2 separate regions of the Homo sapiens genome follow, and region 1 is linked to region 2. The links come from fine-mapping of genetic effects on gene expression. A gene starts in region 2. The other region holds a variant in brackets. All regions are shown on one strand. Distances are from middle to middle. Region 1 overlaps LOC105377109 (a long non-coding RNA gene). Region 2 holds the start of FAM3D (FAM3 metabolism regulating signaling molecule D).

Evidence for each region. PIP is the estimated chance that this variant, and not a neighbour inherited with it, causes the effect. A credible set is the group of variants that fine-mapping cannot tell apart.
Region 1: its variant is the best candidate, but not a certain one, in a credible set for the expression of FAM3D in nasal epithelium (TOPMed, PIP 0.61).

What each region holds. Positions count from the first base shown.
Region 1 is chr3:58,705,630-58,711,005 of GRCh38, forward strand. LOC105377109 (a long non-coding RNA gene) reads left to right here. Exons shown (of 3, transcript XR_940879.3): 3 at 293-455. Among named protein-coding and RNA genes, the nearest start is that of FAM3D, 42 kb to the left of the region's middle. The variant GCTTA/G (reference allele first, on the strand shown) is at 2,100.
Region 2 is chr3:58,663,828-58,669,203 of GRCh38, forward strand. FAM3D (FAM3 metabolism regulating signaling molecule D) reads right to left here and starts at 2,947. Exons shown (of 10, transcript NM_138805.3): 1 at 2,749-2,947. It overlaps LOC105377109 (a long non-coding RNA gene), which reads left to right and starts at 806. Exons shown (of 3, transcript XR_940879.3): 1 at 806-1,106; 2 at 3,726-4,081.

The sequences.
Region 1 (5,376 bases), 42 kb after region 2:
CACTGCAACTCTTCCCTGGACCTCCAGTCTGTGGTCTATCCTGGAGATTTTAGGCTTACCAGGCCTCCATAATAATGTAAGCCAGTTTCTGAAATTAAATCTCTCCCTCTATACACACATCCTGCTGCTTCTGCTTTTCTGGAGAGCCCTGACTAATTCATGGCCCAAGCCTGAATTCTCTTTTCTGGGCAGGGGACGAGGAAAGTCTGGTAATACATCTACAGTTAATTTTAATGACATCACAGGTAGAAAGATTCTGGAAACTGACTTTTTTTTTTTTTCCCCTCTGCAGGTGCAGATCATATTTTCTGCTTAGAGCAGATTCCTTCCTGGGCAGACATTGAGCACACAGCCAGCTGCAGTGGGCACCAGAGACATTGCGTCCTTTCTACTCTTCATGTCCTGATCCCAGTGATAATCTTTGAGGCCCCAGTCGGTGGTTCTTTTTTTTTTTTTTTTTTTGAGATGGAGTTTTGCTCTTTTGCCCAGGCTGGAGTGCAGTGGTGCGATCTCAGCTCACTGCAACCTCCACCCACCAGGTTTAAGTGATTCTCCTGCCTCAGCCTCCCGAGTACCTGGGATTATAGGCATCTGCCAGCATGTGCAGCTAATTTTTGTATTTTTGGTAGAGACAGGGTTTTGCCATGTTGGCCAGGCTGGTCTCAAACTCCTGGCCTCAGGTGATCCACCTGCCTCGGCCTCCCAAAGTGCTAGGATTACAGGCATGAGCCACCATGCCTGGCCCAGTAAGTGGTTTTTAATGAGGGTGATTTTGCCCCCTTTGGGTACATTTGGAATGTCTGGAGACATTTTTGATGATCATGCCTGGGAGGTGGATAGTGTTACCGGCATCTAGTGAGCAGAGGCCAGGGATGCTGCTATATATCCTAGTATAGGTACAAGCCCACTGCCACTCCCTAATGAAGAATTATCTAGCTCAAAATGTCAAAGGCACTTGAACCAGAGTGACTCCATCTTGAATAGGGACTCAGTAAAATGAGGCTGAGACCTGCTGGGCTGTATCCTCAGGAGGTTATGCATTTGTAGTCACAGGATGATAGGAGGTCACAAGATACAGGTCACAAAGATTCCACTGATAAAACAGGATGCAATAAAGAAGTCTGCCAAAATTTGCTAAAACCAAGATGGCAGCAAAAGTGATCTCTAGTCATTCTCACTGCTCATTATATGCTAATTATAATGCATTAACATGCTAAAAGACACTCCTACCAGCACCATGACAGTTTACAAATGCCACAGCAACATCCAGAAGTTACCCTATATGGCCTAAAAGGAAGAGGAACCCTTCATTCTGGGAAATCCCTGCCCCTTTCCTGGAAAACTCATGAATAATCCACTACTTATTTAGCATATAATCAAGAAATAACCATAAAATTAGCCAACCAGAAGCCCTCAGGGCTTTTCTGTCGATGGAGTAGTCATTCTTTTATTCTTTTGCTTTCTTAATAAACTTTCTTTCACTCTAGTCTGTGGACTTGCCCCAAATTCTTTCTTGTGTGAGATCCAAAACCCCTTTCTTGGGGTCTGGATCAGGTCCCCTTTCTGGTAACAAAAATGTCAATAGTGCTAAGGTTGAGAAACCCTAATTAAGGTAATTAAATAATAGATAAAAAAGACATTCCTTTCAATCCTACCTTCCAAAAAATGCACACACACTCTCTCTTTCCTTCTCTTTCTCTTTCTAAGATCACTTTGTAAGCTGAGAGAATTATGACAGAGACTGGAGCGACAGCATTTTATTTCACTGTATCTCTGTCCTTTAACACCTCAGTGCTCCCAGCCCCAGGCCTCTTGTGTCCCAGCATAAAATCTGTGAGATTTAAACATATACTATGAGATGCCTTATAAAACATACAGAATATGATCTGACAAGGTCCTTTGACAATGCCCTCTTTCGCACAAAATCTTCAGGCAGTAATTCAATTTCGAGGCTTTTCTCCTATTGAAATACGGTGTGTGACACTACCCAGGCCCTGGACTGCAGCACAATCTTCAGCACTGGGCATTTTTTTTCCTGGGTAATGGATTTTATTTCACCAAAAATAAGCATTAAAAGGCTTCCAAGGGGACACCATTGT[GCTTA/G]CTGATTTTTTTTTTTCTTTGGAAAATGTGAGATGTTGCTGCATAATGACAATAATCATTAACTTTAGGTTTATTCTGGGGTTAATGAATTATTATAGTGCAGTGAAAAATTATTCTCCAATAAATGTTGAATTCCATTTTTTCTGAAACTTCTCTCTCTTTTTTTTATATGTTTGGTATTTTTGTCTTTTCCATTAAAGATGTGCAGATTTCAGATGAATAGAATTTGTCTGTGTTTTCTTTACCTGCTTCTGACTCTTAAAAAAATCCCATGTTAATTATTAAGCTGCATTGGGGAAAATAAATGATATTCAGTAGCTCTCCTATTCCTTAATAAGAGATTCTTGGTGAACTTAGTGGAAACGTATTTTTTAAAGCTAATAAGCTTTAAAAATTGGCCATTTCCACAAAATTTTCAAGTTCAACCTGATGGATTATAAGGCTTCTATCACCAATGTCAATCCTTCTTATATGGATTATTTATGACAATGGCAGGAAATAGATCTGTTGAGCTGATGGAACTGTTTCAGAAGGGCATTCAACACTAGCCAGATCCCTCTATTACACTGAAGCAGTCTCTGGGTGTGGGTCAAAGTTGTCAAAATGAGTTTGAGGACATGCACAGCTTTACTCATGGCTTCCCCCTCACCCACTTCCTGCCCCTGCTCTCCTGTCTGAGTTGTTATCATTGAATGCTTCTGCTGAAGAGTCAGGGGCCCGAAAATCAACTCCCAGGATAATACAACCAACACTCGTTCAACTATTGTTTACTTAGCACCTACTATGGGTCACATCCAGTGTGTAGAAATAGGGACACAGGAGTACAATATGAACCCTGGCCCCAAGGAGGTCACCACCTGTGTTCTCAGAATCTGTACAGCTCTAACCTTTAGCCCTAGGGTGCTGAGACAACACAAAGGACTGCATTGCCAGATCAGACTTGCAAGAATCAGATTTCATCTAGTATCAAACTGTACTGGCAATTTTAAGCGTATTAGTAATTGTGAGGCACAGGCCAAAGCACAGAGAGGGCCCAGTGAAGATCCCCAGATTCTCTCTTGCCACATTAGAATGCCCTCTCCTCCATTAACAAGTGAAATCTAAGCAATGGCAGTGGGAGAAACACACAAAAGAGGGCTCTTTTTGAGAAGTGAAGCTGGCTGGGCTTCTGGGTCAGGTGCGGACTTGGAGAACTTTTCTAACTAGCTAAAGGATTGTAAATGCATGAATCAGCACTCTGTGTCTAGCTAAAGGTTTGTAAACGCACCAATCAGAGCTCTGTGTCTAGCTAATTGGGTGGGGACTTGGAGAACTTTTCTGTCTAGCTAAAGGATTGTAAATGCACCAATCAGTGCTCTGTGTCTAGCTAAAGGTTTGTAAATGCACCAATCAGAACTCTGTAAAAATGGACCAGTCAGCCTCTGTAAAACGGACCAATCAGCACTCTGTAAAATGGACCAATCAGCAGGATGTGGGTGGGGCCAAATAAGGGAATAAAAGCAGGCCACCCCAGCCAGCAGAAGCAACCTGCTTGGGTCCCCTTCCATGCTGTGAAGCTTTGTTCTTTTGCTTTTTGCAATAAATCTTGTTGCTGCTCACTCGTTGGGTCTGCACTACCTTTATGAGCTGTAACACTCACAGTGAAGGTCTGCAGCTTCATTCCTGAAGCCAGTGAGACCATAAACCCACTGGGTGGAATGAACAACTCCTGACATGCCACCTTTAAGAGCTGTAACACTCACTGCGAAGGTCTGCAGCTTCACTCCTGAAATCAGCAAGACCACGCACCCACCAGAAGGAAGAAACTCTGGACACATCTGAACATCTGAAGGAACAAACTCCTGGTACACCATCTTTAAGAACTGTAACACTCACCCTGAGGGTCCGCAGCTTCATTCTTGAAGTCAGCAAGACCAAGAACCCACTGGAAGGAACCAATTCCGGACACATTTTGATCATGAGGCATCTCCATTTGATATTTCAAAAATTACAAAGGTTATATGACATTTTCCAGGAAGACATGCCCCAAAAATCCATGGATCCCACATTTGTTTGCCATGAGTAACTCAGACACTCAGGTATACCTTGCCAAAATCATTCCATGGGTAAGAACTCTCCCCTAGTAAATACCGTCAGTGTGTTTTCCAGAAGGTCTGTCATTATTAGCATGTTTAGAAGAAAATCTGATCAAGTACTTCCCTTTCTTTCCCAAAGCATTCCTTGTAGAGGGAAAGAATGGATTGCAGGCCTACTGCTGGCTCTGTCCTCCCCAGGTGCCATGATTGACTAGCAATGTCTGCCATAGCTGGTTGTGGAGGGGGTTGGAGGGTAGGAGAGCAAGTGTGTGCCTCCAAGCAACCCTGACCAGGCTTTGAGAGAGCAGTGAGTTGCTGAAGGTAACTCGCTTTGAGGCCTTGAGAGAGCAGTGAGTTGCTAAAGGTGATACCAGGGTGTGGTTAGAGAAAAGACTCAAACTCAGGACCCTAAACTCTAGGACTTTTCATTGATATTCTTACATATCATAATGATAACTAGAACAGACTCTGCAGTGAAAAAACCAGATATCCTTGACTTCTCACTAGCTATGATGTTGCCAAGTTCTTAGCCTTTAGATATTCAGAAGGGGAAAGGATATTATCAGTCCCTGTTTTTCCAGGACCTACTCTGAGCCAGATGCTAGACTAAGTGCTTCATACCTAGTATCTGATTTAATACTCCCTGCAACTCTATGGAGTGGGTCCTGTTGTTATTCTCATTTTACAGATGAGGAAACTGAGGCTGAGAGAGGTTAAGTGACTTACCCAAGGTCACATATCTTACGTGTGCAGAGGGGATAGTAAAGGCCACACTGTTTACCAGGGTGTCTCAGTCATGCATTTGGCTAGATTAGAGGGGCTGCCTTTCCAAAAGTGGCTTCATCAAGGGTACCAGCCATCATCTCTACCCCATCTCCTTTCTTACAGTAAACAGCATGCATTTTTGAGTGGTTACTGTTCATTTCCTGTCCTGTGGATGGTGAAGCGCTGTCGTAAGCATGGAGCAAGGTTTTTCAAACAAATTGAAGGGAAAAAATTTGAGGCGAAAGGAAGGTGTTGTGAATGGATTTTACCATCAAGACACTGTGTTGAAGCAACATTCATGCCGCTCTGCTAGCAAAGATTCCTGTTTGCAGGATGGCAGTGGAAATGCATGGTGCCATTATTTAGTGAGATCACGTGGTGAGGAAAGCAGCATGGCAAAAATGAAACAAGCCCTGGCCTCCAACCCTGTCAG
Region 2 (5,376 bases):
GCCCTGCTGGGTGACTCCCAGCTCCCAGCTCCCAGCTCCATGCCTCTGCTCACAGGGATTTCTCCACCAGGGCTGCCCTCACCTGTCCTCGCCAGAGGAATTCCATACTTTGTGGAATGTGGCCTCCTTTGTGAGGTCCCCCTTCTGCAGCCTGTGCAGGCCTAGATCATTCCCTCTGCGATGTGTGTGCATGTCGGAGGGAGAGGAGTGTGGTGGCCAACAGCATGGATCCTGGAGCTGGACTGCCTGGCCATAAAGCTTCTCTCTACCGTTCATAGCCTTGCCACCTTGGGCAGGTTACCTCACCTCCTTAGGCCTCAGTAGTTCACTGCAAAATGGGGATGATAAGACCTCCCATGCAAAGTTATTGTATTTAAACCAGCTAATCCATGTACAGTACTTGGCACCATTCTATAGACACAGTCAACCCTCCATATGCGTTGCCCAGTTTTGGGACTGCTGTTTGTACTGATTACGTAGAACTTGTTCACATCTCTTGTACAGTGCAGTCCCTGACTCCTTTTACTCTCAATCATTGATGTGACTAATTTATCTGATAGGCTGTGAACTTCCTGAGACAGTGTCTAATCATTTCTGAATGCCCAGTTCCATGCAGACTGCCTGGTGCATAGAAGGTGCACAGCTTGGACAACAGCACTGTCCTATATTGTGCACCTACTACGTGGCAAGCATCATGGTAGATGCTTTGCACACATTGTCTTTTTCAAAATGCACACTGTCAAATCCCAAAGAACTTATTACCGTCCTCATTCTTTTGAGATAAGGGAGGGTCAGACAAGCCAATAAGATAGGCAACTTGCCTAAGGTCACATGGTTGGAAAAAGGGCAGAACTGGGATTCAAATGCCAAAGGCAGGGTTGCTCTCCCCACAACCTCTATGTCTTTGTCTCCCCAGGCCACACCCTTGGGGGAGCAAACCTCTGAGCCTCCAGAAGCAAGGGATTGGCACCAACTGTAGGAAATGTCTGCTCCGCTCCAGGGCACCTGCCCTCTGGGACTGCAGGCTGGGTGGGGGCTGCCAGTCCCCCAGGCAGGCTTGTCGGCTGCCCACTTGAAGTCTCACCAGGACTGCCAGTAGTAGACAGGTAGGTCTCCTCCAAGGGGGAGCAGCTGCCCCAGCACCAGGAAATGTTGGCAAATGATGACTTCGAGCATCCCCCACCGCAGGGAAGTGCCAATGAGGAAGTTAGGCCCCTGGGTTCTGGAGGCTTCAACATTCCTATGGGAAGCAGCAGGGTCTGTGTGTAAAGATGGAGTTGAGCTCAGGAAGAGGTGTGCACACCATGGCCATAAGACAGAAGCCCCTAAACCTCCAGGTGCCCAAGGGCAGACAGGCAGATGCACAGATTTGGGCAGATGCTGAGCAATGGCAAACTCCTCCCTAGCCTGTGCAGACCTGGGCGCAACAACCTCACTGACTTCACCTTCCACCACCAGCTACTACCCCTTTCCTGCTTGAGCTGCTCTGCCCTCCTCTTTCTTTCCTCCTGTTCCCCCTTCTCAGAGATTCTCCACTGACCCAATCTTTTCCTCCCCTGCCCTTCACTCCTGAAGGACCCGGCATTCTCTTGGGAGAAGTCTGCCCTGACTCCCAGGCTATCTCCATGGTGTATGTCAAACTGTTTTGAAAATGACTATCTGTGCAAGTTTTCCCTTTCTGGTTAGAACCATGTATGATACCTCATCTTGTTAATCATTGTGTCTTTTTTACCTGACCCAATTAATGCTCACTGGATGAATCATCTAGAAGGACACTCTTGTACCCAGGCAGCCCACTTCCAGCCATGGACTCAGAATCCACTGCAGTGTAGAGTCAGTGTGGCATAGTGGGCAGGAGCAAAAGCTTTGCAGCCAGATTGCCTGGGGAAGTTATTAAATCTCTCACTGCCTTGGCTCTCCGTCTGCAGAGTGGGAATAATCATGGTGCTTTCCTTGTAGAGGTGATAGGAAGATTAAATGTGTTATTATATGGAGAGCACTTAGCACATCATACATGTTATTTTATGTACTTCAGTGATGATTATCATAGTTGCGTAGACAATGAGAACTTCAGCGATTGATGGGGGATATTCAGACTCTCTCTCCCATTTTACAGATGAGGAAACTGAGTCTTAGTGAAAGGGACTAGCTCAATATTACATAGCTAGAAAATCTCTCAAGTCCATGCACCTTTGTCATAACTTTTCAGATCATTACCTTATGAGAAAAATGAGATTTGGGGCCAAAGAACAACATTCCTTTCTTTTTTATTCATTTTTCAAATATTTGTGTGGCTCACTGTTGATCATTGGAATGTGTTTTTTTGAATCAATAGATGAGTGAATGAAAGAATAAATGTTGAGGGGCCCCTGTGGTTAAGGAAAAAACCCTGCAGTGTGGGTTATCAAATCCCTAGCTGGCATGCCCTACAGCTCCTTCTTGTGCCCATGGCAGACATAGCTAATCAATCATAGCATGCTTTTGCCTGAGCCCGAACCCAGCCCCAGAATCCTTTTTATCACAGTCTAATTTCATTGATCAGGCCTGGTGCCTCAGATGAAATCTATTTGCCTTCCTGAGTCTGATCTCAGGAATCTCTTCGATTATGTGGTTTCCTTCTTTCTTTCCTTTCATCATTCTGTCTCAGGCTCTTTCACTCCTATTTCCCACCCTCCCCACCTCCATTTTCCCCTCTGTCAATCATGTGTACCTGGAACCATAGCCCTTTCCATTCTTGGGGGGACGTACCCGAGGGCTCGAGGCTCCCACTTCCCTGCTTCGATGGAGAAGGCGAGGTGGTCCAGCAGGTGCCGTAGGTCCCTGACCCAGCTGACCACCACCCTGGGCCAGCTTCTGACAGTCCCACCTCCCAGTTGCTGGAGGGGTAGTGGCCTCACAGACGGCCCTCCTCTAGATGCAGTGGGCCCAGAGGGTGAGACGGAGTGTTGCGGGCCGCCAGTGGGCCAGCTGCTCCTGCCCTGCGCAGGCTCTGCCCCTCCTTTGAGGAAGTTTGCCATCAACTCTCCCTGCCCTGTTAAACAATCTCACAAGGAAGGAGGAAGTTTATTCTAAGTGCTCACGGGGCAGGAAATGAGTCTAAAGTCTTGCCTGGCTGAGGAGTGGCTTAGGGCCTGGCTGGGGCCTGGGGAGAAGGGCCATGCCTGTTCCCTTCCTGTAGAGCTATCCTGACCTTGGCAAGGGAGGTTTGGGTGGGAATTCAAGCAACTTAATCAGGAATGAGATACCACAATCTGCCTTCGAAAACAGCCAAAAAACCTTACAAAAAACCCGACCCTGTGCTAACAACCTCCCCAGGCGCTGGGAGGTGTGGGGCTGGTAGAGCGAGTAACTGCAGCTGATGATCACCTGCTTTGAGGTTCTGGACTAGAGTGTGGGGGGGTGCTGGAGGGGCTGACTGGAAAGAGGGGAACCCAGGCAAGAAACTCAGGACAGGAAAGATGGAGGAGGTCAAAGGCAACTGCAAGATATTGAGCTTGGATGATGGAAAAGGGAGGCTTCTTGGTCAAGAGTGAGGAAGATGGGGGAGAGGAAGTGGTTTGGGAAAAGATTCTGGATTTGGGTGGGGCATATTGAATTAGAGGTTAAAGGTGGAGGGGGTGGGGTGTGGAGAAAGGGAAAGACGGAGAAAGAAAAGAAGGGCTGCTCAGTGGCAGACTTTTAGTGAAATGGTGAATGCAGCCTTTGTCTCCCTTCTCTCTCCTTAGGACCCAAGGTGCACTGAGAGGGGCTCAGCTTCCCCCTCCCCTGATCCAGCACTCCCAGTCTTTGTCACAAATCATGGTCTCTTTCCCAAGCGCTTTCCTCTTAGGAGGAGTTCTTGCCTCGGTCCTTGGCACACAGGCTCCTGGCAACTTCCTCCCTTGTTTGCTGACTCTGAATGCTTCCGTAGGCTGTGTGGCCCACTTGGAAGGAATATTCAGGGGCATGAGGTCCAGCAGCTGGTCAGGAAATGAAGATGCATGCCCAGGGAGCTGGTGCAAGGGAAGAGCAGGGAGCGGACCCTGTGTGATGAGGTGCCGGGAGTGGCCCCAGTTCTGCTGTTCCAGCTGCCCATCCCCAGGTAGGCACGTGGGCCCCCTCAGGATGTATCCCAGGGCGAGGCAGTGCTTTCCTTCACTCTGACTGGCTTTAGGACTGGTCCTGTCCTCTGTCCCATCTCCTTGCCTCTTGCTCTCCCTTATTCTGCTAGGACGGTTCTGCCCATAACTGGTGCCTGGGTCTTGTTCAGACCTGACCTGCAGTGTCACTTCCTCAGGGGGGCCCTCCTGACCCTCACTTCCAATATAAATAAGCACACAAGTGTAGGGGAGTAAAAATGGCTTTCTCTACCCTTCTAGCTGCCTTGGCTGGTCAGGAATTAAACTGACAGCAGGGAGAATAACAGGAGAAAAGGTACAGACATTTATCACATGCATGGGGGCATCCCAGGAAAGAAAAGGAATTCCCCACACCCAGTAAGATTTAGAAGCTTGTATACCCTCTTCACAAGGGAGAGAGGGGTGGGGTGTCAGCACCGTAGTGGAGAGTAAATGATTTCTGGGGAAGAGGAGTGGGCCCTCAGCAGGACAGGTGACGACAGCCTGTGACAAAGGCTATCTGGACGTAGTGTGGACCTTTAGACTCCTGTGAAACGAGCCAGTCCTTCCGGCTGATGAGATTCCCTGGGCGGAGATTCATGGCCACTGCGTTTGCTCTGGACAATCTGTCTTTAGACAGAAAAGGAAAACTCGGAAAGCCCCTCCCTGCAGTTGCTGTTCCCCAAGTGACCTCAGTTCAAAGTCTCAAAGTGGCATATTTTGGGGAGTTACTTCGGAACTCCTTCACAAGCAAATCATTTAAAATTGAGACATTCTGTGAAAGAACCCATGAAAGTGATTCCAGGAGAACTTTCCTCAGCAGGTGGTCAGGGAAGGCCTCTCTGAGGAGGGGTGCTTTGAGGAGCTGCAGTAACAAACAAACACAGACCAGCAGCTTCATAACACAGCTGTGAAGCTAACCACTCTGGAGGGCAGGAGCTTGATATGGGTCTCACTGGGTTGGAATCACGGTGCTGGCAGGCTTGCATTCCTTTCTGGAGACTCCAGAAGAAACATTTTTTGTCTTTTCTAGTGCCTAGAAGCCACCTGCATTTCTTGGCTCATGGCCCCTTCCTCCATCTTCAAAGCCAGCAATGTTGGGTCTCCATGACAATTCTTCCTTCCTTACATCTCCCTCTAACTCTTTTATGCTTTCATCTTCCACTTTTAAGGACCCGGTGACAACACTGGGCCCACTTGGATAATCCAGGTTACTCTCCCTATCCTAAGGTCAGCTGATCGGCAACTCTAATTCCATTTGAGACCTTAATTCCCCTTT